Homo sapiens: one gene and its partners. The gene in region 3 interacts genetically with the main gene of each other region. Each region holds a gene or a part of one and is shown on either strand. Other genes may lie near its edges.

Region 1 (3,500 bases), on a different chromosome or scaffold from region 3:
GATGAGAGGATTTTTATGACATGTCATTGTCCTTTCTTCCTAGTGGATGCTGGGCACAGAGCTGTCATCTTTGACCGATTCCGTGGAGTGCAGGACATTGTGGTAGGGGAAGGGACTCATTTTCTCATCCCGTGGGTACAGAAACCAATTATCTTTGACTGCCGTTCTCGACCACGTAATGTGCCAGTCATCACTGGTAGCAAAGGTGAGTCTTGCCTATGGTTCAGGTAAAGTAGGGAGTGTGGAAGAGGTGCTCTGTTCTTCTGTGTCACAGGAGCATCTGTGGGATACCAGGATCCAAAAGAGTTTGAACTGTACATCATAGGAATGACTAGACTACTTGCCCTGGAGAGCTTGATATGGAATCTTAGAAATACCCACTTATGGCTGGGTGCGGTGGTTCATGCCTGTAATCCCAGCACTTTGGGAGGCTGAGGCAGGTGGATCACCTGAGGTCAGGAGTTCAAGACCAGCCTGGCCAATGTGGTGAAACCCCATCTCTCCTAAAAATACAAAAATTAGCCGGTGGTGGGGGGTGCCTGTAATCCCAGCTACTTGAGAGGCTGAGGCAGGAGAATTGCTTGAGCCTGGGGGGCGGAGGTTGCAGTGAGCTAAGATTGTGCCACTTCACTGCAGCCTGGGCAACAGAGTGAGACTCTGTCTCAAAAAAAAAAAAAAAAAAAGCCTGCTTCTAATCTTCCCATCTCTTTGGAATTTCTTTCCGTACTGTTTTGCAGTTGTTTTCAGGATACATTATGTACCTATTTCTAAAACTATTGATAGGAGCTTCCAGAGATCAGGGAGTTGTAGGTATTAATACATTGCCCACCTCTCTTGGTGCCCAGTTCAGGGCTGTCTCATGGGCGCTTGGTCCATATTGTTGACATCTGTAAGCAAGCCGTGACAGTGCTTTGGCTCCAGGCAGGCCTGAATTGTCCAGGGGAAAGTATAATTCTCTCCCTGGATCCTTTAAATGGTCCAAGTAATGAGAAGCAGAACATAGGATCAGTCTGTTAACCCCTTATATGTGTTACACATTTGACAGAGTGCTTTTACGTCTGTTTTCTCCTTCAATTTTCCCCAACATTTCCGCAAGGCCCAGAAAGCAAATGAAATTGTCCCCATTCTCATAGACAGGGAAATAAGCTCAGGTTGGCTAAGGCTTAGAGAGGCCACATCATTAGTAAATAGCCCAGATCTTTGGACTGATAGTCTAACACCGTTTCCACCAGACCCGAACTAACCTCTCCAAGGCTGACTCCTGACTTGGCCACAATCACCAGAGCATGTAAAGGCCTCACCCTACAATTCTTAGCATTGCCCTGTCTATTGTCTTAAAATGTTCAGTGTTGCAAACTTTGCATGGCACCTGTTAGACATATAATCTGAATTATGTATATCTGAGGGCATTCAGGGGATACCAAAAAGCTGCTATCACTGAAGCCTCTTAAGAAATTATAAACTCTTTATGATGCTCTATTGGGTTCTCTGCCAAGGAAACCAGGCATACCTGCACCTTGCCCTCTGGGATCTTATAATCAGCAGATTTGCTTATAAATTGTAGCAAATTTGGAGCCAGGCACAGTGGTGCGTGTCAGCTACTCAAGAGGCTGAGGCAGGAGAAATGCTTAAGCTCAGGAGCTTGAGTCTAGCCTGGGCCACATAGCAAGACCTTGTCTCTAAAAATAAAAAATAAAAATTGCCAGGCGTAATGGCTCACACCTGTAATTCTAGCATTTTGGGAGGCTGAGGCAGTTGGATCACTTGAGCCCAGGAGTTTGAGACCAGCCTGGGAAATATGGCGAAACCCCAGCTCTACAAAAAGTACAGAGATTAGCTGGGCGTGGTGGTCTGTGCCTGTGTAGTCCCAGCTACTTGGAAGGTGTAGGTGGGAGGATCAACTGAGCCCAGGAGGTCAAAGCGGCTACAGTGAGCTGTGATCTTACCACTGCACTTCAGCCTGGGCAACATGTGACCCTGTCTCAAAATACATAAATAAAAATTGTAGCAAATTGGAGTAGGAGAGGTCATATAAAAGACCACTTGTGGCCAGGTGCGGTGGCTCACACCTGTAATCCCAGCACTTTGGGAGGCTGAGGCAGGTAGATCACCTGAGGTCAGGAGTTTGAGACCAGCCTAACATGGTGACACCCTGTCTCTACTAAAAATACAAAACAGCTGGGTGTGGCGGCGCGTGCCTGTAATCCCAGCTACTCAGGAGGCTGAGGCAGGAGAATTGCTTGAATCTGGGAGGCAGAGGTTGTAGTGAGCCGAGATTGTCCCATTGTACTCCAGCCTAGGCAACAAGAGCAAAAACCTGTCTCAAAAAAAAAAAAAAACAAAAAAAAAACACTTGTTTTCCTACAGTGGTTTTTATTTTTAACTCCAGTGTTTGTCCCCTACCCTAAGATTTACAGAATGTCAACATCACACTGCGCATCCTCTTCCGGCCTGTCGCCAGCCAGCTTCCTCGCATCTTCACCAGCATCGGAGAGGACTATGATGAGCGTGTGCTGCCGTCCATCACAACTGAGATCCTCAAGTCAGTGGTGGTGAGTGAACAGGGGCCTTTAGCCTCGAGCCCAGAGCACCACCCTGGGAGGGTGCCAGGTGGCAGGAAGCGCTTGGCAGTGGGTTGGTTGGGATGTGGCTGCTAGTTTCCTGGTTCCTTTTCTGCTTCCTCATTAACCTGACCTGCCCTTCTGCTCCTCCCTTTGAAACCAGGCTCGCTTTGATGCTGGAGAACTAATCACCCAGAGAGAGCTGGTCTCCAGGCAGGTGAGCGACGACCTTACAGAGCGAGCCGCCACCTTTGGGCTCATCCTGGATGACGTGTCCTTGGTAAGATCCTTCGGGAGACCGAGGAGGGGAAGGGGCTGCAGTTCTCGTTTAGGTGCCTGGCTCCATTTCTGGGTAGACGCTATTAGGTCCTCCCTTCTGCTTTGCTAGATGTGAGACTTGAAAACACGGAAACATGCTGAGGTGAGGCAGTCTCCGTGGGTTTTTCAGTTGAGGGTTCTTTTACCTTCCCCCTGCCACACACATTTTTCTTATGACCTCTGGTTGTATCCAGATAGTCTCTAACCACTAAATGTTTTACCTTCTCCAAACTGTTACCCAGAGAGTGATGCCTTGTTAACCCTGTTTGACACAGGCAGAAACTGCCTGGTAGAGACCAGAGAACAGCTCGGGTAGTCCTTCTCCCTAGCACAGACCTCCCAGCCTGACTCCTGGGAGCTTCCTAACACTTTACAGTCCGAAGCTCAGTGAAGTAAGCTCTGGGAACCCCAGTGAAAGGTGATAGAGTGTAAACGAACGGTTGGATTCCCCCAGGCCTGGTATAGGGGGCAAGGGACATCTCTGAGGCGTAAGCTATCCTCTTGAGACACTATAGCTTGTGTGTTTATATGACATTGGATGTCATAACTCAGAAAGCAATGCAGGCAGGATAGCGTTTCAGGTTGAGGAGGGTGAGGGGAAGGGGTCGTGTTTCTAGATTC
Region 2 (3,500 bases), about 120 Mb from region 3:
TTTCACTTTCCTATCTAGACAACTGAGGCTGAGGAAGTCTTTGTGCCAGTTTTAAATATAAAACGTTCTGAACTACCTCTGCGAGGTGACATTGTCTTCTTTCTTCAGAAGGTTCATATTCCAGAGAGTATCTTGATTTTTCGGGATGAGATTGACCTCCATGCATTATACCAGGCTGGCCAACTCACCCTCATCCTTGTCGACCATCATATCTTATCCAAGTAAGCACAAGGAAATTAAATTGCTACCTATCATGTACCATGCTGGGCTCTGATGAGTGAGATATAAAGAGAGGAAGAAAGAGTTTTTGCTGGCTGGGCATGGTGGCTCATGCCTGTAATCCCAGCACTTTGGGAGGCCAAGGCGGGCGGATCACCTGAGATCAGGATTTTGAGACCAGCCTGGACAACATGGCAAAACCCCGTCTCTACTAAAAATATAAAAATTAGCTGGGCGTGGTGGCAAGTGCCTGTAATCCCAGCTACTTGGGAGGCTGAGGCGGGAGAATCACTTGAACCTGGAAGGTGGTGGTTGCAGTGAGCCGAGATCGTGCCACTGCACTCCAGCCTGAGCGACAGAGCCAGACTCCGTCTCAAAAAAGAAAGAGTTTTTGCTTTCAGGGATCTCATAGGCTAATCATAATTGATAGGTCATATTAGATATAGAAAAACAACACAAAATATTGTCAGTTCTGCAGTTATATGTATGTCTGTGGCATATAGACATACCCTATAATAAAAAGAAATAGAACGTGTTGAGTTCAAACTAAAGGGTAACTCAAAAATCATTTAAATCTGCCTTTGGTATCATTATTTAAGATTTTGTGTGCCGGGTGTGATGGCTCACGCCTGTAATCTCAGCACTTTGGGAGGCCAAGGCAGCCAGATCCATTAAGCTCCAGGAGTTCAAGACCCGCCTGAGCAACATGGCAAAACCATGTCTTTACAAAAAATTTTTAAAAATTAGGCACGGTGGTGCATGCCTATGGTCCCAGCTACTCGGGAGGTTGAGGTGGGAGGATCACTTGAGCCCAGGAGGTCGAATCTGCAGTGAGCCAAGATCACACCACTCCACTCCAAGCCTGGGAGACAGAGGGAGACCCTGTCTCAAAAAAAAAAAAAAAAAAGATTCTGAGACAGATTTATTGTAATAGAAACCTTTGAAAAATGTTTGCAATTCTCTTTTTATTTTTTTACTTATTATTTATTTTTGTACTTACTTATTAAATTTTTTTTAGAGAAGAGGGTCTTGCTATATTGCCCAGGCGGATCTCAAATTCCTAGGCTCATGCTATCTTCCTGCCTCTGCCTCCCTAAGTGCTGGTTTATAGGTGTGAGCCACCACACCTGGCCTGCAACTCTATTTTTAATTTTAATTTTAATTAATTATTTTTTTTTGAGATGGAGTCTTGCTCTGTCACCCAGGCTTCAGTGCAGTGGTGTGATCTCGGCTCACTGCAACAACCTCTGCCTCCTGGGTTCAAGCGATTCTCCCTGCCTCAGTCTCCTGAGTAGCTGGGATTACAGGTGCGCGCCACCATGCCCAGCTAATTTTTATATTTTTTACTGGAGACAGGGTTTTGCGCTGTTGGCCAGGCTGGCCTGGAACTCCTGACCTCAGATGATCTGCCCACTTTGGCCTCCCAAAGTGGTGGGATTACAGGCGTGAGCCACCACACCTGGCCTATTTTTAATTTTTAAAAAGTGGCCTGGTGTGGTGGCTCACGCCTGTAATCCCAGCACTTAGGGAGACCTGTCTGACCACTATAGCGAGACCCTGTTCTCTAAAAAAAAATAATAAATACAAAAATCTATAAACATAGTGTGACCTTGTCTCTACTAAAAATAAAAAAATTTGCCAGGTGTGGTAGTGCATGCCTGTAGTCCCAGCTACTTAGGAGGCTGCTGAGGTGGTAGGATCACTTGAGCCTAGGAATTGAGGCTTCAGTAAGCCATGATCACATCACTGTACTCCAGCCTGAGTGACAGGGCAAGAACTTGTCTCCAAAAAAATTTTTTTAAGTTATCAAAAGGGCCAGGTGTGGTGGCTCACACCTGTAAACCCAGCACTTTGGGAGGGTGAAACAGGAGGGTTGCTTGAGCCCAGGAGTTCAAGACCAGCTTGGGCAAGATGGTGAGATCCCATCTCTACAAAAAAATTTAAAAGCACACAAAAAGTTAGCAAAAGTTTTTCTACATAAACTCTTACGATTTTAGAATAATGTATTATGTTAGAATATATAAATATCTCAGGCCAGGCGCGGTGGCTCATGCCTGTAATCCCAGCACTTTGGGAGGCTGAGGGGGGCGGATCATGAGGTCAGGAGATGGAGACCATCCTGGCTAACATGGTGAAAACCCGTCTCTACTAAAAAATACAAAAAATTAGCCGGGCATGGTGGCGGACGCCGATAGTCCCAGCTACTCGGGAGTCTGAGGTAGGAGAATGGCATGAACCCGGGAGGCGGAGCTTTCAGTGAGCTGAGATCATGCCACTTGCACTCCAGCCTGGGCGACAGAGCAAGACTCCATCTTAAAAAAAAAAAAAAATAGCTGGGCGTGGTGGCTCGCGCCTGTAAGTCCCAGCTACTTGGGAGGCTGAGGCAGGAGAATCGCTTGAACCTAGGAGGTGGAGGTTGCAGTGAGCCAAGATCGCGCCACTGCGCTCCAGTCTGAGCGACAGAGTGATGCTCTGTCTCAAAAAAAAAAAAAAAAAAATTAGCCAGGCCGGGCGTGGTGGCTCACGCCTGTAATCCCAGCACTTTGGGAGGCTGAGGCGGGCAGAATCACCTGAGGTCAGGAGTTTGAGACCAGCCTGACCAACATGGAGAAACCCCATCTCTACTAAAAATACAAAATTAGCCAGGCGTGGTGGCACATGCCTGTAATCCCAGCTACTCAGGAGGCTGAGGCAGGAGAATTGCTTGAACATGGGAGCCAGAGGTTGCGGTGAGCCGAGATCATGCCATCGCACTCCAGCCTGTGCAACAAGAGCGAAACTCCGTCTCAAAAAAAAATTTTTTTTAATCTATAAATATCTCAATAATGTCTGTTTAACAAATGTACACATTTATAATAATTCCATCCCTAATTTACTACTGGAAAAAACTACCAAAAAAGCAACACGATTATGTGACTTTCCTAAGTCTGTTTGGCTCCTGCTAATATTTTTTTCTTGAGCACATTGTGGTTATAGCAGGATACTGACAGAAGGCAGCCTGAGAGAGCATTATCCATCTATGGATTCATTCAGTAATAAACTTTCCTTTTTTTTTCTTTTTTTTTTTTGAGACAGAGTTTTCTCTTGTTGCCTAGGTTGGAGTGCAATAGTGCAATCTAGGCTCACTGCAACCTCCGCCTCCCGGGATAATTTTGTGTGTGTGTGTGTGTGTGTGTTTTTAGTAGAGATGGGGCTTCACCATGTTGGTCAGGCTGGTCTTCAACTCCTGACCTCAGGTGATCCGCCCACCTCGGACTCCCAAAGTGCTGGGATTACAGGTA
Region 3 (3,295 bases):
TTCTCCTCACTATTCTCTGAAGCTGGCTTGTCCTTGCCTGAAAAGGCTATCTCCTCATCATTTTCAACTACTTCCTCTTCTTCTTCCTCTTCTAGTTTAGGACCTAGAAGTTCTTCTTCTTCTTCCCCACCCTCCATGGGAGCTGGACTAGACACCTTGCTGAACCTCCCAGGATCCAGTAGCGTTCTCTGTCCTGGGTCACCCACCTCATACTCCTTTAAAATGCCAAAGATCTCAATCAGGCATCGTCGGAAATATTCTACAAGGAGCTCTAGCAACCCTGGGAGCTAAAAAGAGAAAGAACAGGAAATAAATTAAGGGAGAAAAGTGGCCTAAGAACAGAATTATTGACTTGAGAGACCTCCCCAAGTCTTCTGTATCAGTTGGGAGAGGCAGAGTTGCTCCTTTCCCAAAGGTTCTCCACAGAGCAAATTGTTCATCTTAATCTCTTCTATGCCCAACACAAAGTTCTTTCTTCTGCCCAACCTACCTTCACGTAAGCCTATCTCCAGGAACACTAGCCAACAGCTTTGCACCTCACCCACCAGGGCCAATCATCTCTTAGCCTTCTCTTTTCCCAATTAATCTTCTGCTTTTCTTCACCAGGCCAGTTTTCAACCTGGTGGTCATTGCCATTATCTCTTTTAGGACACTCTCTCCATCTCACTGCCAAGTGGAACCCAAGCTTAGGCATGGTGACTTAAGCTAAGAGAAGAGAATGCCATGTGGGCAGATGTTCATGGCTCTCTTCTCCAAGCTCCCCACAAGTCCAGGGGGCTGGAACTCCATGGATCTTGCAGCATAAGGAGTGGGACGAGGCTTCAGCTCTCCAAACACTGGTCCAAGCTGGTGCTACAGAGACCCAAATTCCACCTTGGATAATATATAGGCCATTTATTTACCTCTAGAAGAAAACACTCCTCTCCAGTCACAATCTTTGGCTGAACAGTAGAGCAGATGGAAAAAAAAATAAGGGCTTTCGAATTAGATCTAGGGGCTGGAAGCAGTGGCTCACACCTGTAATCCCAACACTTTTTTTTTTTTTTGAGATGAAGTCTCACTCTGTCATCCAGGCTGGAGTACAGTGGTGTGATCTCAGTTGGCTGCAGCCTCCGCCTCCTGGGTTCAAGCGATTTTTCTCCTGCCTTAGCCTCCCAAGTAGCTGGGATTACAGGCGCCTGCCACCACATCGGGCTAGTGTGTGAGAGTGTGTGTGTGTGTATTTTTTTTTTTTTTTTTTTGAGACAGAGTCCCGCTCTGTTGCCCAGGCTGGAGTGCAGTGGCACGATCTCAGCTCACTGCAACCTCTGCCTCCTGGGTTCAAAGTGATTCTTCTGCCTCTGCCTCCCAAGTAGCTGGGATTAGAGGTGTGTGCCACCAGGCCCGGCTAATTTTTATATTTTTGGTGGAGATGGAGTTTCACCATATTGGCCAGGATGGTCTTGAACTCCTAACCTCAAGTGATCCACCCACCTTGGCCTCCCAAAGTGCTAGGATTACTGGCGTGAGCCACTGCGCCCAGCCTAATTTTTATAGTTTTAGTAGAGATGGAGTTTCACCATGTTGGCCAGCTGGCCTCAAACTCCTGACCTCAAATGATCCTCCTGCCTCGGCCTCCTGAAGTGCTGGGATTACAGGCGTGAGCCACTGCACCCAGCCAGTAATCCCAACACTTTGGAAGGTTGAAGTGGGAGAATCACTTGAGCCTAGGAGTTTGAGACCAGCCTGGGCAACACAGTGAGACCCTGCCTCTATAAAAAAATAAAGAAGTTATCCGGGGCCTGGAACGGTGGCTCACACCTGTAATCCTAGTACTTTGAGAGGCTGAGGTAGGTCAATCACTTGAGCCCAGGAGTTTGAAATCAGCCTGGGCAACATGGTGAAGCCTCATCTCTCAAAAAAAAAAAAAAAAAAAATTAGCTGAGCATGAGCATGTTTGCACGCACCTGTAGTCCCAGCCACTTGGGAAGCTGAGGTGGGAGGATCACCTGAGCCTCGGAAGTTGAGACTGCAGTGAGCTGTGATTGCACCACTGCACTCTAGCTTGAGTAATGGAGACCCTGTCTCAAAATAAATAAATAGCTGGACATGGTGGCATTTGCCTGTAGTCCCAGCTACTCAGGAGACTGAGGCAAGAGGATCGCTTGAGCCCAGGAGTTTGAGGCTGCAGTGAGCCATGAGGGCACTACTACACTCCAGCCTAGGTGCCAGAGTCTCTTAAAAAAAAAATTCTGGCTTTTCCAGGAAGTAGCTGTATAAAATGATAAAAATTCCTAAACTTTACAGGGTTGTTCTGAGGTGTAAATGGGAGATGTCAAATACCTGGCATATGAAAATTGCTCTATCAAAATTTTTCCTTTCTCATGGTAGGCAATATTATGCAATGGAAATAAAATCAGGCTTAGGAATCAGATAGATTCTACTGACAGCTATGTGAACCTCAACAAGGATAAGACTGAGCCTATTTACTCATCCCTAAATGGCCATACCTCCTACCTCTGAGGGCTGTTGCTAGGATGACATGAAACAAAATATTAAGGACCTGGCACAAAATAAGAGCACGATAAATGGTAACTATTAATAAGTCAGCTCCTTGATATACAGGTTGGTAGGTACTAAAGATGATCAAAAGAAAAAGAGTAGGATGATGCAGCACAAACTCTTTCCAGCACCTCCACTAGTGTGCACATCCTATGGAGGGTGGGTCTGAAGAATCAGCTTTGTAAGAATATTGTAGGGCCGGGCGCGGTTGCTCACGCCTGTAATCCCAGCACTTTGGGAGGCTGAGGCGGCTGGATCACGAGGTCAGGAGATCGAGACCATCCTGGCTAACACGGTGAAACCCCGTCTCTACTAAAAATACAAAAAATTAGCCGAGCGTGGTGGCGGGCGCCTGTAGTCCCAGCTACTTGGGAGGCTGAGGCAGGAGAATGGCATGTACCCAGGAGGCGGAAGTTGCAGTGAGCTGTGATAGCGCCACTGCACTCCAGCCTGGGCGACAGAGAGACTCAGTCAAAAAAAAAAAAAAAAGAATATTGTTAAACAATCAAATCCCCCATCCACTCTACATCTAAGGAAAACTGGGATCAACAAAGGCCCCTACTGTTCAGAGAAGAAAGGGAAAAATGGAAAAAACATACTCTGCTCACTGATAAAAATTTGACCACAGATTCAGGCTGGGCCTGGTGGCTCATGCCTGTAATCCTAGCACTTTGGGAGGATCACTTGAACTCAGGAGTTCATGAACCTCGGCAACATAGTGAGACCTCGTCTCTATTAAAAAAACAAAAAAACA
Region 4 (3,500 bases), on a different chromosome or scaffold from region 3:
TTCCACTCCGCTACCCGGGGGCCCGGGCATAGGGCATCAAGCCTTCCCTGGCCAGCCACTTGCCTTCTCTGCCCACAGGAAACATGCTCCTTTGCCTGTCCCCTGCTTGGCTGATGAAGGTGCCAGCACCCGGGCAGCCGGGTGAGGCAGCCCTGCTAGTCTCCAAGGCTGTGAGCTTCCACCCTGGGGGCCTGACATTCCTGGATGACTTTGTCCCCCCGCGCCGTGCCACCTACTTTTTGGCAGGCCTGGGCCTGGGGCCTGGCCGGGGCCGAGAGGCAGCAGAACTCGCCCGTGACCTGACCTGCCCCACAGGAGCTTCGGCTGAGCTGGCCCGGCTGCTGGAGGACCGGCTGCTGACAAGGCAGTTGCTGGCCCAGCAGGGTGGTGTGGCTGTGCCAGCAACCCTGGCTTTCACCTACAAGCCGCCGGGGCTGCTGCGGGGAGGGGATGCCAGCCTAGGGCTACGGCTGGTGGAGCTGAGTGGCAAAGAGGGCCAGGAGACGCTGGTGAAAGAGGAAGTGGAGGCTTTTCTGCGCTCCGAGGCCCTGGGTGATATCCTGCAGGTAACAGACTCTCGCCCACCCTGAGGTCTGTACAGATGCCAGCAGGATGGGACCCAGGCACGGTTACCAAGTCTGGCTGGAAAGGTGTCCCTACCTCTTAGCCCTGCCGCTGCCCTGCCCCATCTCTGGGGCAATCCCCTGCCCTTTTGCCTCAGTTTACTCACCGGCTCCTGTGGCGGAAGTGCCCCACCCTGCAGTACCTGGGGTGGTGTCCAGGAGGCCCCTTTCCCCTCCTTGCTGCAGGTAGCTGTGAAGCTCAGTGGCTGGCGCTGGCGGGGGCGGCAGGCATGGCGTCTGCACCCGCGGGCAGAGCTGGGTGCAGTGGTGGACACAGTGCTGGCGCTGCTGGAGAAGCTGGAGGAGGAGGAGAGTGTCCTGGTGGAGGCTGTGTACCCACCTGCCCAGCTGCCCTGCTCAGGTGAGAGCCACCTGGGCTGACCAGGGATGGGAGTTTGGTGTGGCCTTCTGGCCACTCTGTGCTGGCCTTAGACCTCCCCGTCTTCCCCCAGATGGTCCTTCACCCGGCCCCGGCCTGGCCGTGCGAATCTGTGCTGTGGTGTGTCGGACACAGGGTGATAGGCCACTGCTGAGCAAGGTGAGCGTGGCCCAGGCCCAGGCTGTGACCCTGCCTGCCACACGCCAGCCCAGTCCCAGTAGTGGTTTGCCAAGGGCCCCTGAGCCGTCTCTGGGCAGAGAGGACAAAATCCTTAGGGGGGTCGTAGTTGCCTCTGGGGAAACTACTGGGTCTGACCGTCTTCCCTCTCCTGCAACCCTTCCAGAATCCCTCCCACACCAAGAGCCCCTGCCCCTGTGCTCAGCCCCACGCTGGGTAGTACCAGGGCCCAGGGGGCTGAATTGTCTTCCCAGAGAGCTCTTGCCCACGTAGAGGCTGACCCAGGGCCTCCTGATAAACCTCTAGTGCCTGGACGCCTTCAGGAGGGGCCTCTAAGCTGGAGAGTCAGGAAGGCTTACGGACCCTCCTGAGTACCCCGCTCTAGGCTACACTGAGAGGGAGAGATTCGACCCTGCCCTCAGGGAGCTCCAGTGGGGTAGGGAAAGGTGCGCCCCAGGGAGATGCTAGGGTGGGGCACACCAGGGTGGCCCAGGCCCCCAGGGCTGCAGGAGCCATCCTGGAGGGGGACCCCAGCTGGGCCTGGAAGCCTGGGTAGGTAGAATCCCTGGAGAGGTCTGGGGACCAGATGGGGAGTGGCAGGGAGAGCTCGTGTGCAATTTAAGACACGTTGGAGGACGGGGCTTCTTGAATGTCCAGTGAGGGGTCTGGTCTGAATTTTGGCACAAGGCGGTGGGGGTGTGCGTGGGGGGCAGGGAGTGTGTGGGCCTCCCCCTGAGTCTCCCCCTGCCCAGGTGGTGTGCGGCGTGGGCCGCGGGGACCGCCCTCTACGGCACCACAACTCCCTGCCGAGGACGCTGGAGGTGGCGCTGGCCCAGTGCGGCCTGGGCGAGGAGGCGCAGGTGGCGGCTGTGCGGCAGCGCGTCAAGGCGGCGGCCGAGGCCGCGCTGGCCGCCGTGCTGGCTCTGGAGGCCGGCCTGAGTGCCGAGCAGCGCGGCGGGCGCCGGGCGCACACGGACTTCCTGGGTGAGTGAGGGCGGCCGGGGCCGGGGCCGGGAGCCGAGGGCCAGGGGCTGGAGGGCGGTGGCTGCCGTAGCTGAGCTCGCGCCTCCCGCCCGGCGCAGGCGTGGATTTCGCGCTGACAGCGGCCGGCGGCGTGCTGACCCCAGTGGCCCTGGAGCTGAACGGCGGCCTGTGTCTGGAGGCGTGCGGCGCGCTGGAGGGGCTGTGGGCCGCGCCGCGGCTGGGGCCGGCGGCCGACGAGGCGGTGGCGGCGCCGCTGGTGGAGACCATGCTTCGGCGGTCGGCGCGCTGCCTCATGGAGGGAAAACAGCTGCTGGTGGTCGGCGCTGGCGGCGTCAGCAAGAAGTTCGTGTGGGAGGCGGCGCGCGACTACGGGCTCCAGGTGGGCGGGGCGCGGGGCGGGGCTGGGCCCCAGGTCCTGGCCCGAGTGGTGGAGGCGGGACCCCGGGGCGGGGCCTGGAGCAAAGGGGCGTCCTTGGGGCGGGACCAGCCGCGCTAGAGGCGGTGCTTGGGCGGGGCATCCTGGCCAGGTACAAGTAAGCCCAGGAGTAAGGGCGGAGTCCGCCGCCCGGTGAGGGTGAGGGGACTCCGCTAGTTCTGGAGTGAGAGGCCCTGGGGAGGGCAGGGAGTCCTCCACAGAAAGAGGAGAGGAGCCCGGGTAGATGGGCTGGGCGAGGGACAGCGTTAGCGCCAGAGTGGGGGCCTTGAATGCCAGGCTAAGGAGCCTGGCTCTGTCTTGGGGAAAGGGCGGGCCCTTTGAGGTTGAATTCCTGACACTTGGCACCCAGGACCCGCAGAGGGTGCTGGGGAACCGCATACAGATCCTGAATCAAGTTCATAGCAGGGCATCACTTTACAGAATCTGGAGCGAGCCAGGCAGGTAGACTTGTTTTTGTTTTTTCTTTTTTGAGACAGGGTCTCAATCTGTTGACCAGACTGGAGTGCGGTGGTGCGATCACAGCTCACTGCAGCCTCGACTTCCTGGGCTGAAGCGATCCTCCCACCTCAGCCTCCCTAGTAGCTGAGACTACAGGCACGTGCCACCATGCCCAGCTAATTTTTTTTTTTTGAAACGGAGTCTTGCTCTGTCGCCCAGGCTGGGTGCAGTGGCGTGATCTCGGCTCACTGCAACCTCCCGGGTTCACGCCATTCTCCTGCCTCAGGCTCCCGAGTACCTGGGACTACAGGCGCCCGCCACCACGCCTGGCTAACTTTTAGTAGAGATGGGGTTTCACCATGTTAGCCAGGATGGTCTCGATCTCCTGACCTCGTGATCCACCCGCCTCAGCCTCCCAAAGTGCTGGGATTACAGGCGTGAGCCACCGCGCCCGGCCTTTTTT

Evidence for each region.
Region 1: changes in ARID1A (region 3) and PHB1 together harm fitness more than expected from each alone (negative genetic interaction), as found in Homo sapiens cells (one large-scale study listed by BioGRID).
Region 2: changes in ARID1A (region 3) and PRUNE1 together harm fitness more than expected from each alone (negative genetic interaction), as found in Homo sapiens cells (one large-scale study listed by BioGRID).
Region 4: changes in ARID1A (region 3) and CARNS1 together harm fitness more than expected from each alone (negative genetic interaction), as found in Homo sapiens cells (one large-scale study listed by BioGRID).

The regions. Positions count from the first base shown.
Region 1 is NC_000017.11:49,408,383-49,411,882, reverse strand, and holds part of PHB1 (prohibitin 1), read left to right. Parts: intron 1-43; coding exon 44-205; intron 206-2,409; coding exon 2,410-2,552; intron 2,553-2,724; coding exon 2,725-2,841; intron 2,842-3,500.
Region 2 is NC_000001.11:151,018,449-151,021,948, forward strand, and holds part of PRUNE1 (exopolyphosphatase PRUNE1), read left to right. Parts: intron 1-18; coding exon 19-221; intron 222-3,500. UniProt on the Homo sapiens protein: Phosphodiesterase (PDE) that has higher activity toward cAMP than cGMP, as substrate. Plays a role in cell proliferation, migration and differentiation, and acts as a negative regulator of NME1. Plays a role in the regulation of neurogenesis.
Region 3 is NC_000001.11:26,776,015-26,779,309, reverse strand, and holds part of ARID1A (AT-rich interactive domain-containing protein 1A), read right to left. Parts: intron 288-3,295; coding exon 1-287. UniProt on the Homo sapiens protein: Involved in transcriptional activation and repression of select genes by chromatin remodeling (alteration of DNA-nucleosome topology).
Region 4 is NC_000011.10:67,418,678-67,422,177, forward strand, and holds part of CARNS1 (carnosine synthase 1), read left to right. Parts: intron 1-78; coding exon 79-566; intron 567-809; coding exon 810-984; intron 985-1,075; coding exon 1,076-1,161; intron 1,162-1,931; coding exon 1,932-2,163; intron 2,164-2,261; coding exon 2,262-2,542; intron 2,543-3,500. UniProt on the Homo sapiens protein: Catalyzes the synthesis of carnosine and homocarnosine. Carnosine is synthesized more efficiently than homocarnosine.